Linked DNA regions of Homo sapiens. The protein of the gene in region 1 interacts with the protein of each later gene in a pairwise test. Each region holds a gene or a part of one and is shown in the gene's direction. Other genes may lie near its edges.

Region 1 (7,890 bases):
TATGAAAAAACAATCAACAGATGGCAACATTGAGATGACAATGATGTTGGAATTAAGTAAAAAGACTTAGAGGCAACTATTATAAATTCTCCAACAAGCAATTATGAACACTCTTAAATCGAAAAATAGGAAGTCTTAGCAAAGAAATAGAAGATATAAAGAAAAATACAATGAAAAAATTTAAAACTGAAAAATACAAGTGAAACAAAAAAACTCACTGGACAGGCTAAATGGCAGGGTGGAAACGACAAAAGAACAAGTCAGTGAATTGTAGAGAATCAATAGAGACTATTTCATCTGAACAACACAGAGAAAATATTTTAAAAAATGAAAAGACTTATGGTCCTATGACATAATTTTTAAAAAACTCAACGTTCCTGTCATTGGAATCTCAACAAAGGAGAAATAGTATGCTGTTGAAAAAAAATGTGAAAAAAATAATAGCTGAAAGCTTCCCAAATTTAGAGAAAGATATAAATAAACCTATGTATTTAAGAAGCTCGGCAATCCCCAAACAGTATAAGCAATGAAATCCCTACTCAGAAAACACCATAATCAAAATGCTGAAAACTAAAGACAAAGAAAAAAATCTTGAAAGTATCTAGGAAAAAATAATTACATGAACAGGAATAATTTTCGTTTTACAATAATATTGGATTTATGGAAGAGTTGTCAAGATAACACAGAGTGTTTCCAGAAACTCTTCACCCAGTTTCCTCGATGTTAACCCAAAAGGCAATGAGGAAATCTAAATGACCAGGTTCCAGAGGAAGAAGAAACAAGTGTCTGGTGCCCAGAGACGACCAGATGCCCCACCAGTTCTGATCCATAGGAGAATGATCGTTCCACATGGCCAACTCCATCCTCATGCAGCAATTCCTCCACAAGCACAAGACAAGCTTGTCCTGATGTTCCTTGCCCTGGCAGATGTTCAGGACCTTCCTTTGATTCAACCCCTCCACCTAAATGGCCCAAGCTTTCGGGGCTGTCATTGTGAAGACCCCTTCCTATAAACCACAAGGCCCTACAGGTGCTGGACACTGTTGTTCTCACAAACACATCTCATGTCCACTTTTGCAGAGACTGAGGTACTTCAAGCTCCTTCCACCCTTGCATTCACTTTGTTCCTGTCTCTGTCTTGAAATGCTATTTCTTCCCCCTCTTTGCGAATCTCTCCCTCATCTTTCAGGTCTTAAATGTATGCCTTTGAAGAAGCTTTCACTGATTTCCCAGGCAAAATTAATTCCTCCTGTTCCTCTTTTTCATCACATTCTGTGTTTTTTAACTTTCTATAAAAACACTTATTGCAATGTGCAATTGTGTAACGATGTGATTATTTGTTGAATGTGCACATCAGTATCTCCATGATGACACGGATTGGATCGGGTTTTTGTTCATTTGCTGTATCAAGTGTTCTCAGAGTCACAGGGGGAAGGTGGTTATGGCATTGGGTGTGACACTTTTCCTTGCACAGATGTATTAGATTTTGTTCAGTAACAAAGCATAAAACCCAACCTCCCAGTGGCTTATAAAACAAACATTTACTTCTCAGTCATAGGTCTGTGGGTGAGTTGTCTTCTCTCTAGGCTTGGCTGTGCTCAGGTTTTGGGTTGGCTTCATTCTCAGGTCTGTTTGTCATTCAAGGGCCCAAGCTGAAGAGGGGGTTGTGGCCTAACCATGGTCGTGTTGTGCTGGACGTCACAGCAGAGGAGGAGGCGCAGAACAAAGGCTGCTCTCAAAACCTCTACTCAGACCCGGCCCACTCTCATCTGCTGGTATCCTGCTGTTTCAAAACCAGCCAGAGGGCCCAAGGTCAACATGAGGGAGAAATCAACCTCCCCCGCCTGTGAGACATAATGTTTCCAAACGGTCCCTTACTGGGCTGCTCTGTAACCACATCAGACCCTGGCACCCGGGACTGCACACTGCGGGCCCCATGGCCTGGGCCTCACAATTCTTAGAAACAGGTTCCACTCAGGAGGCCATGGGTGTCCCAAGTGAGGAACAACGTGCTCCAAATGTCACCCATCAGAGTTGTCGGAAAAGGAGGAAAACTTTGTCAAGGACCTTGGGTCAGTGCATTTCAGGAAAGCCCTGCCCCCGCGTTGACGCCACAGTGTACTTTTACAAAGCCCCTTAGTATCAAATTCAAGGTTGTCACTTACTGTCCGCTGATGTTTATTGAAAGCCTCTTGGGTGCTGGGAAGTGCACTTTTGGGTGGCGACACAGGCGAGAAGCCAGGCTTGGGTCAGGCCTTTCCTTTGTGGTTTCCCATCCCTCCACCTTCCCACAGAGTTGTCCCTTTAATTTAGACTCATCCCCACAACCCCTGTGAACCAGCAAGGGACAGCCAGGCAGAGCCCAGGTGACATGAACATAAAACAAATGAGACAAGAGGATTCATTGATACAAAACCAGGATGTCAGGAACCGTCACTTGAGAAATGCATTCTAGTGCTTTAGAACTCTTGTGAATTATGTTATCGGGTTAGTGGAAACGTGGGAAGTCTTTTCCTAGCCATATGCGAAAAGATTGTCTTTACACAGTAGGCAGACCAAAAATACACGCAGAATGAGTGGGAAACCCCATATGTGGTATGGGAGAAGGGGGAGCGCCAGCAGCAGATGCGCCATGACTTGAGTACTGGCCGTGTCCACACATTGTGCTAACTGCAGTGGCTGCTTTACTGCTTGGTGACGCAACCCTATGACAGAGTACTATTATTATCCCCCTATAAACACACAGCATCCACAGGATTGAAATGCAACTTCAAGAGCTACGCAAACAAGAATAAAGCGAGTACACGGTATCATGTCTGATGAGTGTGAACTTTCGTGGCAGAAGACTTGGTTCTGGTTCTGTCCAGGCCACTGGAACCCACTATCTGTGGGTGCAGGTGATTTTCCATCATGGAGCTAATACCTTAGCTGGGCATTATTTCACTTAATCCTTACAAGTGCCTTATTAGGTGCTTTCCATAGCTCTCCTTCAGCTGAGGTTTAGAGAAGTTAAACAATTTACCCAATATGTGAACTGGATATGTCTGACTCTACAACCGGTCTCTTCCATCCTATTTCCTCCATATAAGCCGTAACTTGGGTGCTTTTGTGAACATCAAAAAAGATGCGTATAAAGTCGCCTTGGGGAACGTTAAACCAAAGTCAATTAACATTACAAAATCAACTGAGGCCATATAGAACTTCCTTTAGAAAATTAACACATCCAATCATCATATTATTTCCCAAATGTTTACTTAGGTGCCTGTTGCAAGCACTATCTTATGTCATCTTCAATAAGCCCAAGAGGAAGCTTCTGCTCTAATCTTTAGATATTAAATTACGCGTTTCGGGGAAACTTCGCGTGTGAGGTAAAGCAACATGAGCGACTCTAAGGCGGCGCGGCATTGCTGTCCGGCCTCCTGCATCTCGGTGAGCAGAAAACGCGGGAGCGGGAGGGACTTCCCAGCTCCCGACGCCAGACACAGGCACAGCCGCCGCGTCAGAGGGAAGGCGACGTGGTTCAACAGCAACGGAGCCATTACTGGCGCTGAGCAGGGATGTTAAGGACAGAGCCAAGTTATCAGAGCTCTCCGAATCGAGTCCAGGGTCTGGACTGCCACAGACGGGTCGCCGCCTCCAGCCCCTGGACTTTTCCTTGGAGTGTCCGGGCGCGGACCTACTAGCTCCGAAGCCCTATGGGTGATCCCTTTCTGCTGGGCAACTGGGGTTGCGCTTTACACTACAAATCGAAGACGTCGCTTTTTCCATTTGTTCTGCAAGTGTTTATTGTGCACCGTCCACTCCCCCACAAACTCAATGTGCCGGCGGCAAGAGGCAAGACCGCAGACCCGTGGGCGCGCCTCCCGGTGTCGGCCGGTGTGCGCGGAGGGCGAAAGTGGCCGGGGCGCCCGCTCCGAGACGCGGCAGAGCCCCGCAGCCTCAGCGCCCGGCCTGCGCGCGCCCGGGGGAGGCTCTGGCCCACGCACATGCACACGCACGGGAGCGCTGGCTCCCGCGTCCCCGGCGCTGCGCCGGCGCCGGGCGCGGGCGGAAGCCCACGAACCAGGGCGGGAGGGAGCTTGAGGCGGGGCGGGTGTCCGCGAGCAGCGCTCGTGCTTAAGTTCCCTGGCTCCCGAAGCCCCGCCCTTGCCCCGCCCACTCCTTCTCCCGCGCGCGGGCTCCGCGCGCCCCAAGCCGCGCGCGTGCGCGCGCGTGCGCAGGCCAGGGCCCTCCGGGGGCGGCCCCGTAGTCTCCAACGAAAGCGTCGGCAAGGGCCCGGATTAACCCTTTCTTTGCTCGCCCACTTAGAGACCCGGTCGGGTTCCGTGCCTGCGCAAGCCGGCGGCGCGCCTTCCCCCCAGCCCGCACCGCGCATGCACGGGAAGGGGGGGGCGGTGGGGGTGTTCACGGCCGGCTAGACATTCTGTGCTCGTGCAGGAGGAGGGCTGCTACCATCAGGGACGTGCACGATTTCCCCCACCCCGCCCCCTCCCCAAACTCCAAAAAAAAATCCAAAACACACTGCCACCCACCGTGCCCCCGCGCCCCGAGCCCCTCCGGTCCCGGCCTGCGTTTGCTAGCGAGCGCGGGGAACCCACGGCAGTGTCTGTGCCTGTGCCAGGCTGCAGGTAAGCGCGGGCCAGGGTGCGGAAGGGGCTGGGGCCGTCCGCAAGGCGGGCGCGGGGGCGGCCGGCGGCTGGCGGGGCGGCCCGGAAGACGCGCGTTCTCGCCGAGCTCTGGGGCACCAGCCAGCTCCAGGATGTGCGGCGGCCGCCAGCGGCGCGGCGCGGTGCGAGCGGGGACGGGCGTGGGCCAGGGTTGGGCGTGGGGCCGGGGCGCCCCGGGGGCCGCGCGGGCCGGCGAGCGGGCTCGGGGAGCGGCCAGGCGGCGGCGGCCCCGCGCGCGCGCTCGCAGAGCCTCGGCGGCCGAGTTCATGGCCGCCCCCGCTCGCACCGCCGCAGTGCACCGCGGTGGGGGTGGGGACGGCCCGAACCCAGCGCGGAGCGCGGCCCGCCGGGCGCCGCCCCTCCGAGCCGCGGGCCCCGCCGCGCCGCCTACAGCCGCCGGCGGAGGAGGGGGCCGGGACCCAGCGCACGCACTCCCGGGTGCGCCCGCGGAGCTTGGGTTAGCCGGCCGCGCGCCGCCCCCGCCCCCGGCCGCGGGAGGGCGGGGGAGGGCCCGGCGCGAGCTGGCCGGGGAGTGCGCGGGGCGCGAGCTCCGGGCTCGCGGGCGGAGCGGGGCGCGGCGCGGCGCGGGGCTGCGGAGCCGGCCGCACGCCCGCTCCCGCTCGTCGCGCCGCCGGGGCCGCCGCGGGCCGCAGTCCCTCCCTGCGCGCTCCGAGCCGCGGTCCCAAGCCTGCGCTCGACGTCTGATTATGAAAGGGAAAGTGGCCCTTTCACCACCTGGCTCCCAGGCTGGGAGCTTTTGTCTGGGAAGGAGTGCAAACGGCCTCCTCCACTCCCCACCTCCCAGGCCCAAAGAAATTGAGAGGGAGGACTCGATACGCCTTGAGGGCTTCTTGGGTCTGCGCTTGGCTCCCTGCTTCCTCCCGACTCCGAAGTTGCAAGCTTGCAACAAGGAAGTCGTGCAGCCGCCATTGTCGGGCTGCCCGGGGCAGGGGAGGCGGCTGCAGCTGCTTATGTAAGTTTTTGGCTTTGCGGGAAGCCCGGCTCCCTGCACTGTAACGCGGCTTAGCGCGCCCGCAGTTTGGAGAGCAATTAGGAAGGGGCAGCCTTATTATGAAGGTGGTGTTGGGGCTACGTCTTTTCCTACACCTGCCTACACAGATGCTGGCAACAGCTGTCTTCCAGTTTTGACTCACCTGAACTGAGCAATTGGACATCTCAATGGCAAGGGGGGCGGGGCGGGGAGGAGGCGGCTTTGGACACACATGGTCTCTCTTCCAGGTCTCATACATCTTGAGAGAGAGAGGGGAGAGGGGCGAGTGGCCAAGTACACACTAGCCAAAACAACAACAACACATTGATATGTTGTCATAGCTAGTCTAAGGCCACTCCTCTCTCTGGTCCCATGCACTTTTATCCCACAAGCCCTAGGACGAGTTAGTGACAACAGTAGTAAGTGTCACAGTGTAAGGTTTTTGCTGGGCTGCCTAGCCTCTGGATGATTACAGGCCTGGGTGCTTCTAGGGAATAGAGAGGCAGAAACACGTAGAATGATCAAGTCAGAATCATCTTTTGGAAATGTTGCCTAACCTCAAACTTCAGATGAGACATCCCGCTTCTACGCTGGGTAGCTCGGTGTGTTCACTTTTCTTTAGAAGGAGCTTATTATGGGTTTCAAGGTGTTGGTCTCCAGGTTGGAGTCTTGTTCCATGGTTTTTGTGTAAGACTGTTACAGCCCAGTCCTTTGCTCCTACCACACCAAACAACTTATCTGTGTGGTCACTGTTCAGTAGAGGAAACTTTTTGTTTTTCAGGATATGGGTCTGCAGGATGGAGTTCTTCCGGTAAGAGTTAAAACTCACAAAAAAGCTGAAATTCTTTCACCCTTATTGTAGGGATAGAGGTAAAAACACCTGGATTTATCAAATACAATCTTAAAAACAAACGTGTATGCTATTAATACATCACACAGGTGCAGAAAGAAAAAGCAATCATTGTTCCCTCTCCTCCCATGTTACCTGTTGGGTTTATGTACTTCTATAGCTTTATTTGTAAGGTATATACTTCTATAGGTTTGTATGAGCCGAGAGAAAAATGTAGAGGGCTAACATACCCAGCGGGAAATGGGATAGGTGTAGGGGGCACGGTGCACTTGTTTTTTTCTATATCTGTGTAGCCATCAATCTCTGTACAAATATGGACATGAGCTTAGTGTGTGAGGAGAAATCCCTTAATGGTTCTCCAACCCCTCCTTCCAGTTCCTAGGGCACAGCCCCTTTATGCCCGAGTGCTACAGCCCTTATCTGTTCTAGTCCATATCTGTTCAGAACTGCACTTGATGTACCAGCTACCTACCTGCCACTCTCCCCAACCTGAAAATGCACAAAAGAGGGAACAAGAAAGTTTATTTTTAAAAAATCAATTCTTGGTTTAGGATTTGGGATACAGGAAGATCCTACCTCATTCTTGTTTATCCTTTCCTCTGTAGGTCTGGCGTGCTCCTGATCAGAGTTACTCTGATCTGAAGATTTTGGCGTTCAAGGCATTAAGATAATAGCCTGAGTTGTTCATGGTAACTATAACTTTGGATATTAAATCTTGATGAAAATGACTTGGCATTTGCTTTAAAATATATATACCAATTCTGATTGTGCATGAACACTTCTATTTGTCTGGGGGAAAATATTAGCCGAATAAAAGTAAAACAATGTTTTTAAAAAGGAAACATAGAGAATGCTTTAAGATGACCAGTTTTTTAACATGATGACAGAGATCTTTCATGCCAGTTCCAAATTTTTGCTTATAAAATACTCTCAGCACTTATCAAGTACTTACATCTGGTGTTGATGGCACTTTTATCTGGATGCAGGTAGATTGGCATCTAGAGAGAACAAAGCCACTTCCCAAATGTCATCTCATTCTCTTAAGGTCAGATTAAACCTTGACCTTCATTTAGAAGTGGCCCAAAAGTGCTGTGGAAAATCTAGAACACAACACTCAATGGGATATTTTGGCAGTAATGTTCCTCTCTAGTTCTGCAATAGTAATTTGTTCCTTCTGTCAAGGAGGTATAACATAATTATTTTGCTGAATCCTCCATAGAGTAGATGGAATAAGAGTAGGTGCAACAGAGAGGACTAGAGGATTGTTCCCTTGAACCTGTTTCTTAAAACTTGAGTTTGAGTTATTTGATTATCTCTAGTCAGGAAGCACTGGTTTTGCAGCCAGATTGTCTGCATTTAAGTCCCAGCTCTTCACTAAATAG
Region 2 (7,868 bases), on another chromosome or scaffold:
TTAGCCAGGCATGGTGGCTCACACTCGTAGCCCCAGCTACTCGGGTGGCTGATATGGGAGGATGTCTTGAGCCCAGGAGGTTGAGGCTGCAGTAAGCCATGATTGTACCACTGCACTCCCAGCCTGGGCAACAGAGCGAGACTGCCTCAAAAAAAAAAAAAAAGATTGCAGCCAACTTTAAATTATTGCTACACTGATTATGTGACTTTGCAGTCTAGGATTTCTTAACAATCTGGTTAAGGGAATAGTAGTTTTCTAAAAGTGTTTGGTGTGTACCACATATTTGGAAAATAAAAATAAAAGCCATACGTTGCCAGAAGTTTACATATCTTTCTTTCATGATCTATTATATTTATTATAACATTTAACTCTCAAAAGGCAGATTTTTTTTCTCTATGAATACAGGGTGGGGCACCCTTCTTGTTGCATCAGTGTGCTGCCTGCAATTTGTAGTTATATTGCATAAGACCATGTTGAGAGTTCTTTTTTGCATGTAATTCTAGAGCTAGAATGACTTTAGCAAGTATGTGGCTTGTCATCCTTATTTTTTAAGTGAGAAAACAGGGCCTCACAAATATTTTTGCTTAAAGTTAGTAGCAGAGCCATAGCTGGAATTCATATCCTTCGATTCCAAGTATAATGTCCTTTATGTCATTTCTTTCTATGTTGTTTTTCTCAAAAACAGACATCTTTTTGCCCCATCTTTCACCACTGCTTTGTTCACACCTGGGAACCACAAGTTTGTGGAACTCTCTTCTTATTGCAAATACCTGTTATCTTTTATCCAGGAAAAAAAATCAAATCAATTTCTAGTAGATTTGATCACTTGGACTTCTCTATTTGACACTTCCTTAGCTCTTTTTCATTTTTTGGCCTGGCTTTTTATTACCTCTTCAACTTTCTTATTAACAATCTCTATATTTTCATTTATATTCATCTTTGTTCCTAATTCTGTTGTGCTCCAAAAGAGAATTCTTTTGTATCTTTAAACTCATTCAAGTAGTGACCTAGACTGAAAGAATACTACAGACACCTTCTGTAGATGAATTACCATGAGATTAGCATCTTCAAGTTTTAAGAATTCTTAAGATGAATAGACTTTTCATGTTTTATTAGATTTTATCCTTATATTATGAGAGGAAAAAATACACAGATCTTTCTTAAGAATAATAGTTATCAACATTCTAGATCAGAGTTATTCTTTTTACTTATTTGTCCTGTCAGACTTTCATAATTTAAAATAATAGGTCTGTAGACAGTCACTTTCTTACACCTCATTTACTTTTTTTTTAAATTAAAGGCAAGTGGTCAAACTCTAAAAATCAAAAAACTTCATGTCAAAGGAAAAAAGACTAATGAGTCAAAGAAAGGCAAGAAGGTAACTTTAACAGGAGATACTGAAGATGAAGACTCTGCATCTACAAGTAGTTCACTAAAAAGAGGAAACAAAGACCTCAAGAAAAGAAAAATGGAGGAAAACACTTCTATTAACTTGTCAAAACAAGAAAGTTTTACTTCAGTTAAGAAACCTAAAAGAGATGACTCCAAGGACCTAGCTCTTTGCAGGTATTATTTCCGTTTTCATGCACTGTATATTTATAATGCCCCATTTTATTTGTTTAGAAACCTTTTACCATATTAAAGCTTTCTTTCTGATAATTTATGTAAATAAAAAAATGTAAAGCATAAATGTTAAGAAAATATATAAGTAAAAGTATAGTAAATGTATTCCTTTATCTTCTTTTAATGTTAATTTGCATTGAGTTTTTATTTGAAAGATTATAATTGGGCCTGGCACAGCGGCTCACACCTGAAATCCCAGCACTTTGAGAGGTCAAGACAGGTGGGTCACCTGAGGTCAGGAGTTCAAGACCAGCCTGGCCAACATGGTGAAACCCTGTCTCTACTAAAAATACAAAAATTAGCTGGGTATAGTGGCGTGCACCCATAATCCCAGCTACTCGAGGGGCTGAGGCAGGAGAATCACTTGAACCCGGGAGGCAGGGGTTGTAGTGAGCCGAGATGGTGCCACTGTGCTCCAGTCTGGGCGATAGAGCAAGACCCTATCTCATATATATATATATATATATATATATATATAAAATATATATATATATATATATATAATATATATATATATAATATATATATATATATAATATATATATATATATAATATATATATAATAACTGAAAGCTTTTTTAATTAAAAAATAAGACAGTTGTAAAGTATGGATACTGATTTCAAACATTATTTTCTTTAGTATGATTCTGACTGAAATGGAAACTCATGAGGATGCATGGCCTTTTCTACTTCCTGTAAACTTGAAACTTGTTCCTGGTTATAAGAAAGTTATTAAGAAGCCTATGGATTTTTCCACAATTAGAGAGAAACTAAGTAGTGGACAGTAAGTAAATCATTTCAGTTCACTAAATATTTATTGAATACCTGATATATGCTAGGCATATTTTTAGTGAGCCAAAGATATTTTAATTAACAGCAAGATATAGGCCCTGCCTTTGAGGCAGGTGTGTGTGTGTGTGTGTGTGTGTGTGTGTGTGTGTGTGTGTGTGTGTGTGTGTGTGTGTGTGTATTTGGTTAGAGTAGAATAGTATAGAAGAGAAACCAACTAAAATTATTTAAGAAATTAAAAACCCGTGTAATAAACCTGCTTTTGACATTGAAAGAGCACCACAAACCCAAGCTGAAGGTAAGGAAAAGTATCAGGAGAGCCTCCCAAAGTAAGTAACATATAAGCCGGAATTTGTATTTTGCATCCATGGAGTATCAACCACACGTCATATGGATTTAACAAAAATTGACTCAAATATTGTTAGATTATCACAATGTAGAAATAGAAGATCTTTGGAAGCTTTACATATTAAGAGCTTTAATGTGAGTTATTGGAGAATACCAAAATTCCATTTATTAAATGCGGGAGAGAAAGCTTATTTGCTTTTCTCTACCATATTCTCTTTGCAATCCTATTCCAAGAATAAAGTTACTTACTTTGGGAGGCTTTCCTGATACTCATACAATATATATTTTAATTACATTGTTATTATCCAGTATATTATTTAGTTCTTCCTATACATTCTTTTGGTGAAAATAACTGTTCTCTATGATTTATATTCAATTTAGAAGAGTTAAATAGAACTTATAATGATCAGCATCCCTCACATATATCAACTGATTTACTAGATTGACCAAATGACAAATTTATTTCTTTGGAGGATGAAATAACAGCCGTCCAAAGGTTTATGTCTGTTTTGTTTTATTATTTTTTAATTACAGAAGGGACCTGCCTAAGTTAAGGAAGCGTTTAAATGATTGATTGGTACTGATTGGTTCCAATATGCAAACACTGTTACCTAGATATGGACTAGTTCTTTTGTTTGTTCTTTTTTTTTTTTTTTGAGAGAGTTTCACTTTTGTTGCCCAAGCTGGAGTGCAGTGGTGCATCTCGGCTCACTGCAATCTCTGCCTCCCGGGTTCAAGTGATTCTCCTGCCTCAGCCTCCCAAGTAGCTGGGATTACAGGTGCACGCCACCATGCCTGGCTAATTTTTTGTATTTTTAGTATAAACAGGGTTTCACCATGTTAGCCAGGCTGGTCTCGAACTCCTGACCTCAGGTGATCCGCCCACCTCCACCTCCTAAAGTGCTGGGATTACAGGCGTGAACCACCTCACCCAGCCTCTTTTGTTTGTTCTATCAAAATAGTTGTCTAGGTAGATGGCACAATGAAATTTATAACTAACATGGCCAAGAAAAAGAATTACACATGAAGACTTTACTAGTATTTAAATTAACTCTTGATTTTAACTTCCATGATCTTCCAATTCCTGGATAAAAGATTAACGTAAACCTCAAAATTCCTAAAACAAATAGGCTTAGAAATATTTATAACAAAAAAATGCTACAAAATCATATGGGCCAGGCAAGGTGGCTCACGCCTGTAATCCCAGCACTTTGGGAGGTGGAGGCAGATGGATCACTTAAAGTCAGGAGTTCAAGACCAGCCTGGCCAATATGGTGAAATCTCATCTCTACTAAAAGTACAAAAATTAGCTGGGCATGGTGGTGTATGCCTGTAGTCCCAGCTACTCAGGGATGAGGCACAAGAATCACTTGAAACTGGAGGTGCAGGTTGCAGTGAGTTACCTCGCCACTGCACTCCAGCCTGGGCAACAGAGTGAGATTGTCTCAAAAAAAAAAAAAAAAGCTACAAAATCAGAGCTCCTTTGAAAAATGAGTCCCAGTGAATGGAGGAAGTCACAGGGGAAGAGAAAGAGAGAAGGAAACAGTCTGTGTATTCCTGTTTGTGATGCCAGGTGTGTGGGAAGCAAAATTTCAGTGGATTCAAGCTCCTCGAACTCTCCACTTTGAGTTGTTTGATTAAACCCAAATTAATGAGTTGGAACCAAAACTCACAAACCATATTTCAAATTTTTAAACTAGAAATTTTTAGAATAGAGGGAGGGGCCTACTTACATGAATTTTTCTGAGTTCCATTAGCTGCCCCATCCCATAAAGGAAGGACACACATATGAGTTGTATACTTTTTTCACCTAGAATCTCACCTAGAATTCTCTCCTGGACTCCACTCTCCCTAATGTTAATCATTAACCTTTTCTTAGGGTAAGGAACAAAGGCAGAAGTAGTTCTCAAATCAACTTTAAAATATTTTGTAAAAATCATTCCCACACAGATTGTATGATTCCATTTAGATGAAGTATCTGGAATAGATAAATCCATAGAGACAGATAGAAGATTGGTGGTTGCCAGGTACTGGGAAGAGGGAGGAATGGGGAATAACTGTTTAATGAGTATGATGTTTCCTTTCAGGGTGATGACAGTGTTTTAGAAGTGACGATAATACAGTGTTGTGACTTAAATGCCACTGAACTGTCCACCTTAATATGGTTAATTTTATGTGAATTTCTTAACCTCAGTAAAAATAAGCAAGTAATTCCTAGGAAAATGGATGAGGTTACATAAGGGCTGACTTAACTCTGTGAGCACATTACGCATAGAGAAATATTTCTTTCATTATCGCACAGAAGAAGCGAGTGAAAGGTCATACAAGATATTTCACCAAAGAAATAGAATTCCACTTTGACAAGATCTCACAGCGTCAGTGCCTCATAGGGTATTTCTCTTTTTTTAATTTTTATTTTAATTTTTGCAGGTACACAGTAGGTGTATATATTTATGGACTACATGAGATACAGGCATGCAATGCATAATAATCACATCATGGAAAATTGGGTATTCATCACCTCAAGCATTTATCCTTTGTGTTACAGATAATCCACTTCTACTCTTTTACTTATTTTAAAGTGTACAATTAAACTATGATTGACTATAGTCTCCTTGTTGTGCTGTCACATACTAGGTCTTATTCATTCCTTCTATTTTTTTGTACCCATTAACTATCCCCACCTCCCCACTGCAGTTCCCAGCCTCTGGTAACCATCCTTCTACTCTGTTTCCATGAGCTCAATTGTTTTGATTTTTAGATCCCACAAATAAGTGAGAACACGTGATGTTTGTGTTTCTGTGCCTGGCTTATTTCACTTAATATAATGACCTCCAGTTTGATCCACGTTGTTTCAAATGACAAAATCTCATTCTTTTTTTATGGCTGAATGGTGCGCCATTGTGTTTAAGTACCATGTTTTCTTTATCCATTCGTCTGTTGATGGACACTTAGATTGCTTCCAAACCTTGGCTATTGTGAACAGTGCTGCACCAAACATAGGAGTGCAAATATCTCTTTCATAAACTGATGTCCTTTCTTTTGGGTATATACTCAGCTGTGGGATTGCTGGATCACATGGTAGCTCTGTTTTTAGTTTTTTTGAGGAACCTACAAACTGTTCTCCATAGTGGTTGTACTAATTTACACTCATGAGATATTTTTAATGGTTACATTATTTTAGTATACAGATTGTCATAGGTTAGAATTAACTTAAAATTTGCATTTCTAAAAGCTATCTTTTAAAATGTATTGAACTGGCTTGAGTTGGTTTGAAATGACCATTCCCTTCTTACTAATAAGCTTATGCAGATTCATTCACCTTTCTTTTCTCTTTTCTGTTTTTCTACAGAGAAAGAGAATTGGGCTTATCCCGCCAGAAAAGCACAGAAGCCACAGTGCTTCTTGTTGAAAGACAGACCCTCATAATGTTACCTCTAGTAGAAAGATAGCATATGCTTGTTTTGCTTGTTTGGGTTCATCATACTCTATTGCTTGGGCAGAAGAGCACATATGAAGAGAAGAGAAATGGGAAATGGGGAAGACAACGCAGAGCACCATATCTTGGGGTGTATATAGAAGCTACAGGACAAGTGTAATTTTTATCATTGCATGGGGAGCATTGACATAATTTCTACTGCAGCTGAGCATTTTTTAATATGGATAATAGGATTCTGCAAGTGATACATTTGGTCAGAGAACTTAATAAACTAGTCAAGTGGGATAGGTCCTGTGACAGAATTGTGTGATACAGGTCAAACAGGAGTTGGGTTATGGGGAAAATGCCAGTTGAAATATGTTTTGATCTTTGGAGAAACCTATTTTTTCATTTAACCTGTTCTTTAAATCCAGTATGTTCCAGAACATACAAAAATGTTTAAATGTTCCATTTGTAAGAGGATATCATGTATTTTATATCAATTTAAATGCAGTTATCCTAATCATTTTTCTTTCATTTTTACCCTTTATTAACTCTTCATTTGTTTACAAAACAAATCCACTCTATGAACGCAATCTCTAATTATTTGTTTTCTTTCAGGTATCCAAACCTTGAAACCTTTGCTCTAGATGTCAGGCTTGTTTTTGACAACTGTGAAACATTTAATGAAGATGATTCTGATATAGGCAGAGCTGGCCACAATATGAGGAAGTATTTTGAAAAAAAGTGGACAGATACTTTCAAAGTGAGCTGAAGTTATAATAATCTCTTTATTTTTTTCCTTCTAAACAAGGACAAATGAGACCAGCAATGTGAACTGTATTTACATAAACGTGCAAGGCACATACATAATGACTTTCTTTTTCCTTAAGTATAAAAAAAAAGTATCAGAAGAATGATACCATTTTTAAAGGCTTCATTCCTACAACAACCAAGGCCCTCGGTTATTGGTTTGTGTGATTTATCAGCTAATTTAGGTAGAACAGGGAAGCACACCCAAAGAATTTTCAAAGGAAAGGGTGTTATAGTGCAATAGCAATTAAAATATATCAAATCGCACTGAATACTCAACACCAGAGCTCTAATGTGGGAAATGGTTCTCCTTTCCCTCTCAATAAATATCTATTTTTCATTTTTTTACTTTGTAGTTTATTTTTTAGTGAATGTATTTAATTTTATGAATTATTTATGATTAAACCACATCCAGAATCTTCGTTTTCTGTGAAAAGGAAGAACTAGAAAATTGCTTTAAATCTTGAAAATACAAGGAATGTTTTAAAATATAAAACAAAGCCAAGTTAAACTGTTTACACTGATGTGCTATAAAAGCACCAAAAAGAAACTTTACTGTAGAGTTACAAGTACATTTATATATATATGTTGCTGCATCACTTGTGTAGTTAAATTGTATTTCAAAACAGTGAAAAAATTGACATGTATATACTGTTCATTCTTGTTTATATTAAGTCTTGTTTTAAATATGTATTATGTGTATATATTGTTTGCAGACATTATTGTTCATGCCTTAGAGGATTGTAGCATTTTATTTTCGTCTGAAGGTAATGATAGCTATACAGTCTGTACAGTAATTATCCTCTACCAACACTGTGGCGTCTCCTTAATCTTGGTAGTGCCTGCCTTTGAAACAGGGTGTAGGGGATATTAGTT
Region 3 (7,679 bases), on another chromosome or scaffold:
CCACCACTATAATGTAAGCATCAGAAGAGAATAGATTTTAATCTATTTTATTCACTGACACATCCCCTGAACAGTGCCCAGCAAATAATAGGTACTCAATAAATATTTATTGTTGGTGTTGAATTTTTCAGTGAAAAAATCCCATCTGCAAAAGCCTAGTTTCCAGAACAGAGAAAGGTCCTGACTCTTCCATGAAGCGCACAAACATCCTGCTACTTTGAGGTTTTACTTACCCTGATCCCGGTGCCATTGTCTTGGATCTGAATCAACTTCAGGCCTCCCTCTTTAACAATCACTTGAATACTTGTGGATTTTGCATCTAAACTGGCAAATCAAACAGAAAATAATTTATCAGTCTGCAACTACTCTAATGTACATATTTTAATATGAGCCAAGCAATGATAACAAACTCCAAATACAAACAATAGTGCCTCATTAACGTGTTTTTCCTTTGTCTTACAGGCTCATACACTGTATGAGTTTACATATTGTGTGAGAGAGAGGGAAGAGACGGGCAGAGCAACCATCATTTCTAATAGGACATTCAGCACTATTTCTGTTCCTCTAGGAAAGACAGCAAGTGAAGTTAAAAATAGATTTCTTTTGGCAGATGTCTCTTCTCAACTAATTTTACTTTTACCTGAACTTTATTCAGCCTCAGGTTCCTAAGTGACTCTAATAAAATGTCACTAAATAATGTCACTAAAAAATAAAATTCTGAATGATTTTCTCTACTATTCCCTTTTATATTTACGATGGAGGGGAAAAAAAAAAGTAATGCAGAAAGTTAATAAATCTTTAGGAAGTCAATGAATTTTCTGGCCAGGCGCAATGGCTCACACCCATAATCCCAGCACTTTGGGAGGCCAAGGCGGGTGGATCACCTGAGGTCAGGAGTTTGAGACCAGCCTGACCAACATGGAGAAACCCCATTTGTACTAAAAATACAAAATTAGCCAGGCATGGTGACGCATGCCTGTAATCCCAGCTACTCAGGAGGCTAAGGCAGGAGAATCACTTGAACCCAGGAGGTGGAGGTTGCGGTGAGCTGAGATCGCGCCATTGCACTCCAACCTGGGCAACAAGGGCAAAACTCTGTCTCAAAAAAAAAAAAAAACCCAAAAAAAAGAAGTCAATAAATTTTTTGTGCTTTCAAAGAGTAGCCTATAAGCACAGACCAACTGCTAGAGAAAACAAATTTTCTAGCAGGGGCTGCATGAGAAAGAGTTATCTATTCCCCACACAGACAATTCTTTATTCAGAAATAAGATAATAGGCTGGGCACGGGGGCTCACACCTGTAATCCCAACACTTGGGGAGGCTGAGGTGGGCGGATCACCTGAGGTCAGGAGTTCAAGACCAGCCCGGCCAACATGGAGAAACCCCGTCTCTACTAAAAATAAAAAAATTAGCCGGGTGTGGTCATGCACGCCTGTACTCCCAGCTACTCGGGAGGCTGAGGCAGGAAGATCGCTTGAAACCAGGAGGCAGAGGTTGCCCTGAGCCAAGATCACGCCACTGCACTTCCGCCTGGGCAACAGAGTAAGACTTCATCTTAAAAAAAAAAGAAAGAAGACAATAAGTTACTTAAATATTACAGACATTTCTCATGAGCCCCTGTATTGAAGTTGTATTAGTCATCTCAACTTATATATTAAAAAGAGTATAACTGGACTCCATATAAAAATCTCCACTTGAGCCGGGCGCGGTGGCTCATGCTTGTAATCCCAGCACTTTGGGAGGCCAAAGCGGGCAGATCACCTGAGGTCAGGAAATCGAGACCATCCTGGCTAACATGGTGAAACCCTGTCTCTATTAAAAATACAAAAAACTGCAGGGCGCGGTGGCTCACGCCTGTAATCCCAGCACTTTGGAAGGCTGAGGCAGGCGGTTCACCTGAGATCGAGAGTTTTGACACCAGCCTGACCAACATGGAGAAATCCCATCTCTACTAAAAATACAAAATTAGCCAGGTGTGGTGGCACATGCCTATAGTCCTAGCTACTCGGGAGGCTGAGGCAGGAGAATCTCCCTTGAACCTGTGAGGAGGAGGTTGCAGTCAGCTGAGATCGCGCCACTGCACTCCAGCCTGGGTGACAAAGTGAGACTCCGTCTAAAAAAAAAATAAAAAAAAAATAAAAATCTCCACTTAAGTAATTAATTACAAGCCACCAAGCTAGTATGTTTAGTTTTGTTTTACAGTATTCTGGCACAGTACAATAATAGGCCCAGTTGTCCTGTCAATTCATTCTAACACAGTAGAAACAAAAGCCAGTCTGCCATTGCTTCTGTTACTACTATTACAAGTGAAAAGGAAAAAACATCCCCAGGTTCTTGCTCCTTCTTTCATCTACCTTCCAATTCTCTTCCTTTCCTTCAGTGGTCCTTTCTACCCACTGTTCTCTCAGTCCCATTGCCCTGAATAGTTTATACTTTCACAATAAATCCCTCTAGAAACCTACCACTCCAAACTGAAGCATTCTTTTTTCTATTAACGTACGGACGTCACTAACAACTGATTTTAACAAAATAATCTGACATAACGTTTAGGTGTATTTTGGGCTTGTCTTTTTGGAAGTTTATAGTCTGCACTCACTTTTCCTTCCACATGTTTCAAATCTCTTCCCTTCACATTTTTTGTCACAGTTATAAGCTTCAAAATCCAAGGATGACCCATAAAATCTGGTATCTTCGAAGTGCGTCCTCCGAAATAAAGGACAGGAAAACACTAAGAGGGGTCACTAATTTAACAATAGGGTAATCAGAAGTCAAGCCCAAAGTGCATCAGCCTGTCCTAAAACTACAAACGATTTGTTTTGAAAGAAACTCAAAATGAATTGTGCCTTTGGATGTGAACAGATGATTTCTGGAATGAATGAAAAGCAAGAAAACAGTAACACAGTACCCTCTGAAAAAAGGTTTTTCTCCCCATCTTAAGCTTTTATACATCTTTTAACTTCGCATGTTCTGCATACATAATTTTAAATTAAGTGGCTTCCTTACTTAGTTAACGGTACCATTAAGACAACACTACGTATATTCCTCCACTTACACTCCAAACAACCCTTAAAAGGTCTCGGGGGAGAGCGGTAAAGAAACACACGGTCTGCGGAAAAGGAGAAGGCCTGACTGGCACGTCAGGGAACCCGGCGGCCTCCGCCGTTGTGGGCATGCGCTGTACATGCCTCTGCCCGGGCAAAGAGGCGTGTCCGCGCCATTGAGTGACGCGGCCCGTTAAGTCGTAGCCCTTAAGTGAGCCCGGCTCGACTCCCTCCGTACCAGTTCTCAATCATCTCTTTGATAGCATTAGCTGGCCGCTGGATAACTTCCCCCGCCGCGATGCGGTTCACCACTGTCTCGTCCAGCCGCCGAATAACCCCTGCCACGAACGACATTTTGGCGCCAGAAGAGCCAAGGAAACGTCTAGATGCTCAACGGAAGTGCCTTCAGCCAATCACCTCAGTGCCTCGTGCTCACGTTCTTCCTTCAGCTGTAGCTTACGCCATCCAGCCCCACCCTTCAGCGGCAGCTATTGATTGGACAGCTTGAATGCCAGTCAAATTTCTCAACTCTGTGGGTTGCTGGGTCTCTTCGTCCCTCCCTGAAGCGGCTACTGCCCGCTACCTAGAAGGATATGCGCTTGCGCGTTAGAGATCGCTGTCCGCTCTTCCTATTGGTTCGTTTTTAGGAGCTCGGGGAATACGAAATATCCAGCCAATAGGAGCAGAGATGCCGGAACCGGGCTTGTGTGCCTCTGCTGAGGTGATCTGGCGCAGAGCGGAGGAGGTGCTTGGCGCTTCTCAGGCTCCTCCTCTCCCCTTGCGGCCTTTCTAACGTTGGCCCTGCTCTTGTGGCCTCCCGCAGAATGTGGATGACGCCCAAAAGAAGCAAGATGGAAGTCGACGAGGCTCTAGTTTTCCGGCCCGAGTGGACCCAGCGTTATTTGGTGGTGGAGCCTCCGGAGGGCGATGGGGCCCTGTGCCTGGTCTGTCGCCGCCTCATCGTAGCTACCCGCGAACGCGACGTCAGGCGCCACTACGAGGCTGAGCACGAATACTACGAGCGGTATGTGGCGGACGGCGAGCGCGCGGCCCTGGTGGAGCGTCTGCGTCAGGGCGACTTGCCCGTGGCCTCCTTCACTCCTGAAGAGAGAGCTGCTCGTGCAGGCCTCGGGCTCTGCCGCCTCTTGGCCTTGAAGGGTCGCGGCTGGGGTGAGGGGGACTTTGTATACCAGTGCATGGAGGTGTTGCTGAGAGAGGTACTGCCCGAGCATGTAAGCGTCCTGCAAGGCGTTGACTTATCTCCAGATATCACAAGGCAGAGGATCCTGAGCATTGACAGGAATCTACGCAACCAGCTTTTTAACCGAGCCAGGGACTTTAAAGCCTATTCTCTTGCCTTGGACGACCAGGCTTTTGTGGCCTATGAGAACTACCTCCTGGTCTTTATCCGCGGTGTAGGCCCTGAGTTGGAGGTGCAAGAAGATCTTCTGACCATAATCAACCTGACTCATCATTTCAGTGTTGGTGCGCTCATGTCGGCAATCCTAGAGTCCCTGCAGACAGCAGGGCTTAGCTTGCAGAGAATGGTTGGACTGACCACGACCCATACTTTGAGGATGATTGGTGAGAACTCAGGACTCGTCTCATACATGAGAGAAAAGGCCGTAAGCCCCAACTGTTGGAATGTCATTCATTATTCAGGATTTCTTCACTTGGAACTGTTGAGCTCCTATGATGTAGATGTTAATCAGATCATAAATACCATATCCGAATGGATAGTTTTGATTAAGACCAGAGGCGTTAGGCGACCTGAATTTCAGACTTTACTAACGGAATCTGAATCAGAGCATGGTGAAAGGGTTAATGGACGATGTCTGAACAATTGGCTTAGGAGAGGGAAAACTTTAAAACTAATATTCTCTCTAAGAAAAGAAATGGAAGCGTTCTTGGTTTCAGTAGGGGCAACAACAGTCCACTTCTCAGACAAACAATGGCTTTGTGACTTTGGCTTCTTGGTGGACATTATGGAACACCTTCGAGAACTCAGTGAAGAATTACGAGTTAGTAAAGTCTTTGCTGCTGCTGCCTTTGACCATATTTGTACTTTCGAAGTTAAGCTGAATTTATTTCAAAGACATATTGAGGAAAAAAATCTAACAGACTTTCCTGCCCTCAGAGAAGTTGTTGATGAGCTAAAACAGCAAAATAAGGAAGATGAAAAAATATTTGATCCTGATAGGTATCAAATGGTGATCTGTCGTCTCCAAAAAGAATTTGAGAGACATTTTAAGGACCTCAGGTTCATTAAAAAGGACTTAGAACTTTTTTCAAATCCATTTAACTTTAAACCTGAATATGCACCTATTTCAGTGAGGGTGGAGCTAACAAAACTTCAGGCAAACACTAATCTTTGGAATGAATACAGAATCAAAGACTTGGGGCAGTTTTATGCTGGATTGTCTGCTGAATCCTACCCAATTATCAAAGGGGTTGCCTGTAAGGTGGCATCCTTGTTTGATAGTAACCAAATCTGTGAAAAGGCTTTTTCATATTTGACTCGAAACCAACACACTTTGAGTCAGCCATTAACAGATGAGCATCTCCAAGCCCTGTTTCGGGTTGCCACAACTGAAATGGAGCCCGGTTGGGATGACCTTGTGAGAGAAAGAAATGAATCTAATCCATAAGGCTTTGTAGTACAAGATTGAAAAACTCAACAAGAATTTAATTCTAAAAGCAAAAATTGGTTTGAGTTTTCAAGTTTACTAATTTGGATTGTGAGAAAGTACCAAGTACCAGCCGTCCAAACTGATCACAATTAAAATTCTGACAGTTGCCTTTTTTTTCATCTCAAATGGCAGCATGGGACTGAAACATGAGAATGCCACCTTTTTTAAAACTTAGTTTAGTGACAAAGTCATTGTCTTTTATGATATAGTTAATTTTAAAGAGATTTAGTATTAATGTGAGTTGAATTTGCAGTCTGTTTTTTAGGTGTTCTGAAGATAAATGCCAAAAATTTCAGCTCTTATTTTAATGGAGTGTTAAAATTCTGATTCATATAGTCTTAAATTATCAACTCCTTAAATGTGCTTTTGAACCAATTTGCAGAAGCTCACATAGCAAGTTCATAAGTTTCCAAAAAGGAAGCCCATACATAACAGTGGAGGTGTTTTGTCTAACCATCAAAATGTTTGAGACTTTTTTTTAAACATTTCTGAGTTCGAAGGTAATACTGACAGATTTCTTCCCTCTTCCCTCCCCATCACCCACCTCAGTGATAACACATTACTGATAGAGGAAGTCATTAGAATCATTTTTAAGTTTCAGATATAGGAGACTTCATGCAATTTGGAGATAAGACTAATTATTGGGGGTTTTCCTTGGATTTTTTTTTTAATAACTGGGGGCTATTTTATCAGCTTGCCTATTAAAGGACTATGGTAAGTATAGAATCTTAATGGTTGCCAGTTAGTAATTCTTTTTTTTTTTTTTTTTACTGTAGACACAAGTTTGGCCCTATCAAAAACGATGAGGAAAAAAGATTGCACTCCAGGATTAGGAGGTGTGAGATATTTTAGCTTTTTTGTCTTATCTGCGTGGGTATTGCTGCTTTATTTTAAAAAATCCTGCCTAAAGTAAACACTTTGTTTTAAAATGATACAGTATCAGATTTTGTTAGATGCTAGAAATGGATTTATTCTAAAATTTGGAACTGTCGTACACATTCTATATGTAAGATAGCACACAAGTAGAAATATTTAAAAGCAGTCTTATTCACAGATTGCAGTAATTCTGTATTTCTACTAAGATAATCTGCTTTGTGCCAAAACAGTAATTTCCAAACTTCTGTTCACCATGAAAAGGCAATCTTAAAGTTCATTATGTAAAACTAATTATAAACAGGACCCAATTTATATTCATAGATCCTCTCAAGTATTATACAATTTAAAAACTCTTGTTCCAAAGTCCTGTCTTAACTATTGAAACACCTTAATCTGTGGTTACTAATCCAGCAAATTCAAGGAACCAGGCTATGACTAAGAATTTAGGTGGAATTGATGTCTGGGCAATTAAAATAAATGGCATAAGAGCTTAAAAACCAAAGTTGTGCCAGTGGCTTTCAACTAGAGGCAGTAACCTGTCATTCCAGAGGATGCTGAGAAATGTGTAGGGGCACTTTTTTGGTTGTCATATTTACTAGGGGCTTCTGTTGGCATTTAAGCCTAAAGACACTCACCCCTGCAGTGCATGGGACAGCCTGGCACAATGAAGAATTAGCCCTCCCAAAATGTAGATTATTTTATTTCAAGGGATAGGGCAGATTACCATTAGAAGCAAAATTAAAAGTACAAGCTGGGCAAACTGACAGAATACTAGATAGGAGAGACTAATTCCAACCTTCTAAATTTGGCTAGTAAAGTGCAATAAAGGCATTGATAAGTTCTGTTAGCTCACCATAGCACTTGTAAATCAGGAATTAATAATTGAATCAGATTTAAGGGCTCTGTCCTGTTATACATATTTAAGGCAGAAAAAAAGTTACATGTCGATTAGGTACTTATCAAGAATGGTCAAGCTGAGATTTTGGTTAATAGAGTAAGCTTACATATCTAGAGAAACAACATAGTGGAAAACCGAAAAAAAAAAACAGAAAAATCTACCGGTAATTTCCCA
Region 4 (5,963 bases), on another chromosome or scaffold:
AGACAAGGTTTCACCACATTGGCCGGCCTTGTCTCGAATTCCTGACCTCAGATGATTCACCTTCCTCAGCCTCCCAAAGTGCTGGGATTACAGGCAGGAGCTGCCGCGCCTGTCCTACACCACATCATTTTGGAACAGTTGCTCACCCTTTGAGCCTCAGTATTCTCATCGTTAAAATGATCCTGCCCACAGCCAGGAGAGTGTGAGATAGTGTATAGAGGTGTTTATATCATTCCTGACACGAAAAAGCACCCAGCATGTGACAGCGATCTTTTCCTTTTAACTCTGCAATGAGCCGAGGAGGAGGTTGCAACATCCCGCAGCACCCAGCACTGTGCCTTTCCCTTGGTAGGCCCTTAGCTGAGTTAACAGATGGATGCCATCGGGGTGGGACAGGAGAAGACATACCAGGACACGGAGCTCAGTGGCGGTGCAGGCGAGCTACGGGTTAGCAGAAAGAGACTGCGCACACGTACACACTCCCCCACTCCTGCCGAGTTCAGAGGGTCTTTATCCAAGGATAGGAGGTTCCAAGTGGCTTCACGGAACAGGACAGGCAACACGTCGTAGCGTATCTTTTCCTCAGCCCCTCAGTTGGCTCAGTCACTGCCTCTTTCACACTCAAAACATTCCAGAAGAATGTGCCAAGGCCCTGTGCACTTCCATGTAAGGCAGTGTTTACAGGCACCGGCACCTCCTGATGTGTGAGCCAGACACAGGAGCAGCAGAGCTTCAGCCGCCTCCTCAGGGTCGAGGGAAGTCCCATTCCAGCTCAGGTTTCCTGTGAGCCCCTAGTGCGGGTAGTGTGTATGTGTGTGTGTGTATATATGTGTGTATGCGTGTGTGTGTTTAAGCTCAACTTCAAAATATCCCCTTGATCAGTAGTGACCAGACCTCCATTGACAGCACATCTGCTGTCTACCTGACACCAGCAGGGTCTGTGCGTGTTCAAGCATGTGTGGAGGTTTACATGAGTGAGATCATTATGGCCTTCATCTGGAGTTCTTTTTTTTTTTTTTTAATATTTTTATGGAGACGACGTCTTGCTATGTTGCCCAGGCTGGTCATGAATTCCTGACCTCAAGCAGTCCTCCTGCCTTGGCCTCCCAAAGTACTTGGGATTACAGGTGTGAGCCACTGTGCTTGTGCCTATCTGGAGTTCTTAAGGAACGCTAAGTCCACTCTCTGAGCCTCTTCAGTGAACTTAGAGTCTTGCCGTGAAAAAAGTTAGGCCACTTCTTATACAGTGGCATAAAGCATATATTTTAATTAAAGGAATAGGACAGTGTGCAGGTGGGAGCCGGTGGCTGAGCTCTCTGCTTCTGCCAAGAGGCTCCGGCTTTGAGGCACTCCAGCTGCCTTTGCAGACCACTAGAGGGCACCAAAGAATGCCTGGGAAGGCCCTGGTGGCTTCAGGCGCTTCCTGGAGCAAACTCTTTCGGGCCCTGCTCTGCCTGGAGACAGGGTTTGCCACCCACATCAGCCCAGGGACAGCCTTTGAAGGGGCCTGAGGCACTAACAAGGACAAGGACTGTGTCCTGTGACCTGCTGTGTTTGTCCCCAAAGTGTCCGTGAGGAGTGGGGTGCAGGGCCTGCCACGTAAAGTTAGTGGGTGAGGGCGGGATGGTCTGGCCTGCGTGCCTTTCCTAACTACCATGTGCATGGTTTTTGAACATTCTGAATCTTACTGGCTTCCAAGATGGGCCGTGGCAGGGCAGCACTGGGATATGTGAAGACCTGGTATGTTTGTGTGAATCTCTGCTCTTACTTTGTAGTTTAATTTGTATGTAAGAAAAGTCTGTGTTTATCTTGTTCTGTTTATTTTTATTTATTTATTTTGAGGGGGGGAACAGAGTCTTGCTCTGTCGCCCAGGCTGGAATGCAATGGCACAATCTCAGCTCAGTGCAACCTCTGCCTCCCGGGTTCAAGCGATTCTCCTGCCTCAGCCTCCCGAGTAGCTGGGACTATAGGCATGCCCCACCACGCCCGGCTAATTTTTGTATTTTTAGTAGAGACGGGGTTTCACCATGTTGGTCAGGCTGGTCTCGAACTCCTGACCTCAAGTGATCTGCCCGCTTTGGCTTCCCAAAATGCTAGGATTACAGGCGTGAGCCACAGCGACCGGCCTATCTTGTTCTGTTTAAATGGTTTTCTCAAATGCCCACGAATGCCAGGCAGGGATCCCAGGCAGCAGAGACCTCACAATGCCAGTCTGGTGGGCCACAGCCTCATCCACGTTCCACATAACCTATGCAGGTCCCTGAGGGAACTGAGTAAATGCTTCACAGACCAAGAATGTTGTCCTTGCCATCTGCCTGCAACCTGCTAATAAGCGTCAGGTTGTGTATGGCCAAGCCTCTCCTCTCATGCTGTCCAGTAGAAGTCCCTGAGTTTCTGGACCCTGTCACTCATCACAGCAGCAAGCTAATGTGCTCTCGTGGGGCCTGTGTTGGACTTTTCCTTGTGCCCTCTGTAGCCACTGTTTTTTGAATGCCCACAGTATGCCAGGCACAATGCCAGGTTCCTAAGCTTATTTGCCGGGCGCTGTGCTGAGCCTTTACTTGCGTTATTTCATTCAGCTTTCATGCCCTCTAATGGCAGTGCCCTTAGTATCTCCATCCTGCATCTGAGAACACTGAGGCTTAGTGACTGAGGGGCGTGCCCCAGCTCACCTGGCTGGTAGGAGCCGGATTGCGTCCGCCAGAACCTGAGCTCTGCTTTATTTATGTATTTATTTATTTATTTATTTATTTATTTATGAGATGGAGTCTCACTCTGTCACCCAGGCTGGAGTGCAGTGGTGCAATCTCCACTGACTCCAGCCTCCACCTCCCAGGTTCAAGCAATTCTCTCACCTCAGCCTCCCAAGTAGGTGGGATTACAGGTGCCTGCCACCATGCCCGACTAATTTTTGTATTTTCAGTAGAGACAGGGTTTCACCATGTTGGCCAGGCTGGTCTCGAACTCCTGACCTCAAATGATCTGCCCACCTCAGCCTCCCAAAATGCTGGGATTACAGGTGTGAGCCACCGCGCCCAGCCTGAGCTCTGCTTTATACTCAAATCTTTCTCTTTTTTTTTGAGGCAGGGTCTCTGTCACCCAGGCTGGAGTGCAGTGGCACAATCACAGCTCACTGAAGCCTCAGTCTCCCAGGCTCAAGCGATCCTCCTGCCTCAGCCTCCCGAGTATGGGAGTACAGGCATGTACCACCATGCCTGGCTAATATTTTGGGGGGGTTTAGTAAACAAAGGGTCTCACTATATTGCCCAAGCTGGTCTGGAACTCTTGAACTCAAGCAATCCTCCAGCCTCAGTCTCCCAGAAGGCTGGGATTATAGATATAAGCCACTGTGCCCAGCCTATACTTGAATCTTTAATGTTCATCCCAAACCCTAAAGGTAGACATTACCCCCATTTTATGGAAAAGGACACTGAGGCTCAGAAAGGTGCTGTGACCCGGCCAAGGCCCCCTTGCTAGTGAGTGCAAAGCCAGGACTCGAACTGTCCCCCAGCTTCTGTCTCCTCCTGGGCCAGGCTTCCCCTGAGCTCCTCCCTGCCCCCAGCCCTGGCCTGCAGCTGCAAGGGTTATTTTCATCTCTCCTGTCATTCCAGCAAAACCACTGGGCCAGTGAGTCAGTCTTGTGGTTAAGGGAGGAAGGGTACTGTTGGGAGCCCGCAATGGAAGACGTTTCTTCAGCGGGTGGCCCCCGGGCCCTGCAGTACCCCTGCACCGAGAGAAGAGCCATGTTCCTCTAGGCCTGCCCATGGCTTTGGGAAGTCAGTGCCCTGGATAAGCCACCAGCCTTCCCCACAAAGGCTCAGGAGTGGCAGTTGAGAAGTATTCACTCCCAATTCACTTGGACCCCCTTGTCCTCTCCACCCAGGTGTCAGCGGTGCCCACTGTGCTGGCCATGAAGAATGGGGACGTGGTGGACAAGTTTGTGGGCATCAAGGATGAGGATCAGTTGGAGGCCTTCCTGAAGAAGCTGATTGGCTGACAAGCAGGGATGAGTCCTGGTTCCCTTGCCCGCGTGGGACCCCAATAGAACTCAGCCCTTCCATGCCAGCCCTTCCTGCTGCCTCCCTCCTGTCTGGCTCCTGGGGCCCATGCTTAGAGCCCAGGCTCCAGCCCTGAGTGCTTCCGAGCTGGCGGACTGCCCAGGGGCCATCAGAGGATGGTGGTGCTGCTGCTGATCCGGGGACCGCTGTCTTCCCTCCCATACGCCTTTCATCCCTCCTTCTAGGGCCTATGGCAGTTCTCCCAGGATGTGTGGCGAGAGCCTGGGCCAGCCCACAGCGTTCCTAGTCAGGCAGCCACACCTTGGTCCTCATCTTGGTCCCTTCCAATCTGAAACCTCGTGCCTGGCTCGTCTGCCACCTACATTTCTCTTTCCAGCTGCTGTTTTGTAAAAAGAAAAAGAAAAAAGAAGCCCAAACTAGTGAGAGTAATATCTAATTATCTCATTTTTTGTAGGTCTGTGATAAAGAACTTAGTCATCCCTTCCACCTCCTACTGTGAAGAACAGACCCTGGGTCCCACACTGAAATCCCCTCTAGTCACCCATTCCCACCCCCCAGGGAGCTGCCTCCCAGGCAGGGGGTGCAGAAAATGATTGATGGGCTGGGGAACCCTGGAGAGCCTCGACTCCGGAAGTCTCAAGGTGCCTCCTCCTCTCCTTAGCTGGCCCGTTGGTTTTCTGAGCAGGGGGCTGAACTGTGAACAAGTCAGACAAATAAAGCAAGGGTCTGCACCATCTGCAATGTCACATCTGTGTGGGCTCAGAGCACTTGTCACCCTTTCCCAGGGGGCTTGTCCACTGTCCCCACATCCTCCCCTAACTCCACAACACTCTCTCCAACCAGCCCTTCCTGTTCACTAACATGCTTGTCAGCAGTGGCTGCTATTCTAAGGATGCCATGTGCCAGTCCTCGTGCCCTCCTAAGGCAAGAGGCTGTTGTCCCCATTACCCCGATGTAGACACTGTGGCTCATGGGATGCAGAGCTGGGGTTTCTATCCAGACGTGGTTGCCTCTGAAACCTGGGCTCCCACAGCTGATCCCCTTGACCCTTCTGAGGCCTCCCCAACTGACAGGGCTCCTGGCTGCCCCAGCAGGTGCCTGGCCCTGTGGGGATCAGGCTATCCTTCCCATGGGTGCCTGCAGGAACTTCTGGGCCTTGGGACCAGACAACCCCTCTTGGCCCCCAGCTCCCCTTGGCCATAGAGGAGTGTGCCAAGGGAGCCAGGCTTGCCAGTCAAGAAAGCCTTCCTTCCGTCTGCCTTGCTCCTAGGGCCAAGCTGTCATTAGGGCTCGGTTGCCTGGATGAGGCCCCAGCTTCCTGTGAATCAGGTGCTTGGCGGCAGGGGGATCCTGACACCCTACTCCGTGGCCCCAGGGATGCCATGGGGCTGGTATTGCTCTGTTCTCAGAGGCTCACCCTGTTCTATTAGAACTGTCTGCATTCTCCAGGGGCCCACCCAAGGACTGCCTTGGGAAGGCTGCCGAGACCGAGGGAGGAGAGGGGCCCGTGGCCTCTGAAGGACCCCAGACCCTGGGGTCTGTCACAAGCACATGGAGGGGACAAAACCAGCAACTGGCGTCAGTGGAGACGGAAGCTGGTGGAGTGAACATCCTGCAAAGGCCAAAAGCCCTGGTTAAGATGAGCAGGACCTGCCCAGACTCAGGAGGCACCTCCCAGGTACCTGGCACTGTTTTGAGGGTCTCAGCTCAGCACAGCCCCGCGGGAAGGCGTTGCCCTTCAGATTCCACCTGAGACCTGCCCCGAGAGGTTGAGGAGCCTTCCCCAGGTCACAAAGCCCCTGAGTGGCTGAGCTGGGATTCAAGGCCAGGCAGCCTTCCACACCCACCCCCAGGAACCACCCTCGCTGCCTCCTGTCATCTGATAGAAGGTGGCGTGTGTGTGATCTTCATCTCACAACAGGCAACAAGGCAAGTGGTGTCAG

The links.
Region 2: the proteins of ZBTB14 (region 1) and BAZ2B interact in binary tests that used the Homo sapiens proteins (3 or more experiments, as listed by UniProt).
Region 3: the proteins of ZBTB14 (region 1) and EPM2AIP1 interact in binary tests that used the Homo sapiens proteins (3 or more experiments, as listed by UniProt).
Region 4: the proteins of ZBTB14 (region 1) and TXN2 interact in binary tests that used the Homo sapiens proteins (3 or more experiments, as listed by UniProt).

What each region holds. Positions count from the first base shown.
Region 1 is NC_000018.10:5,292,551-5,300,440, reverse strand, and holds the start of ZBTB14 (zinc finger and BTB domain-containing protein 14), read left to right. Parts: upstream 1-4,714; 5' UTR 4,715-4,789; intron 4,790-5,019; exon of another isoform or gene 5,020-6,260; intron 6,261-6,439; 5' UTR 6,440-6,469; intron 6,470-7,113; 5' UTR 7,114-7,194; coding exon 7,195-7,197; intron 7,198-7,890. UniProt on the Homo sapiens protein: Transcriptional activator of the dopamine transporter (DAT), binding it's promoter at the consensus sequence 5'-CCTGCACAGTTCACGGA-3'. Binds to 5'-d(GCC)(n)-3' trinucleotide repeats in promoter regions and acts as a repressor of the FMR1 gene.
Region 2 is NC_000002.12:159,319,351-159,327,218, reverse strand, and holds part of BAZ2B (bromodomain adjacent to zinc finger domain protein 2B), read left to right. Parts: intron 1-1,300; coding exon 1,301-1,566; intron 1,567-2,264; coding exon 2,265-2,408; intron 2,409-6,800; coding exon 6,801-6,954; 3' UTR 6,955-7,868. UniProt on the Homo sapiens protein: Regulatory subunit of the ATP-dependent BRF-1 and BRF-5 ISWI chromatin remodeling complexes, which form ordered nucleosome arrays on chromatin and facilitate access to DNA during DNA-templated processes such as DNA replication, transcription, and repair.
Region 3 is NC_000003.12:36,989,264-36,996,942, reverse strand, and holds the start of EPM2AIP1 (EPM2A-interacting protein 1), read left to right. Parts: upstream 1-3,811; 5' UTR 3,812-3,865; coding exon 3,866-5,689; 3' UTR 5,690-7,679. Other genes in the region: DNA mismatch repair protein Mlh1, read right to left, coding at 234-324, 3,280-3,395.
Region 4 is NC_000022.11:36,465,839-36,471,801, reverse strand, and holds the end of TXN2 (thioredoxin, mitochondrial precursor), read left to right. Parts: intron 1-3,884; coding exon 3,885-3,998; 3' UTR 3,999-4,756; downstream 4,757-5,963.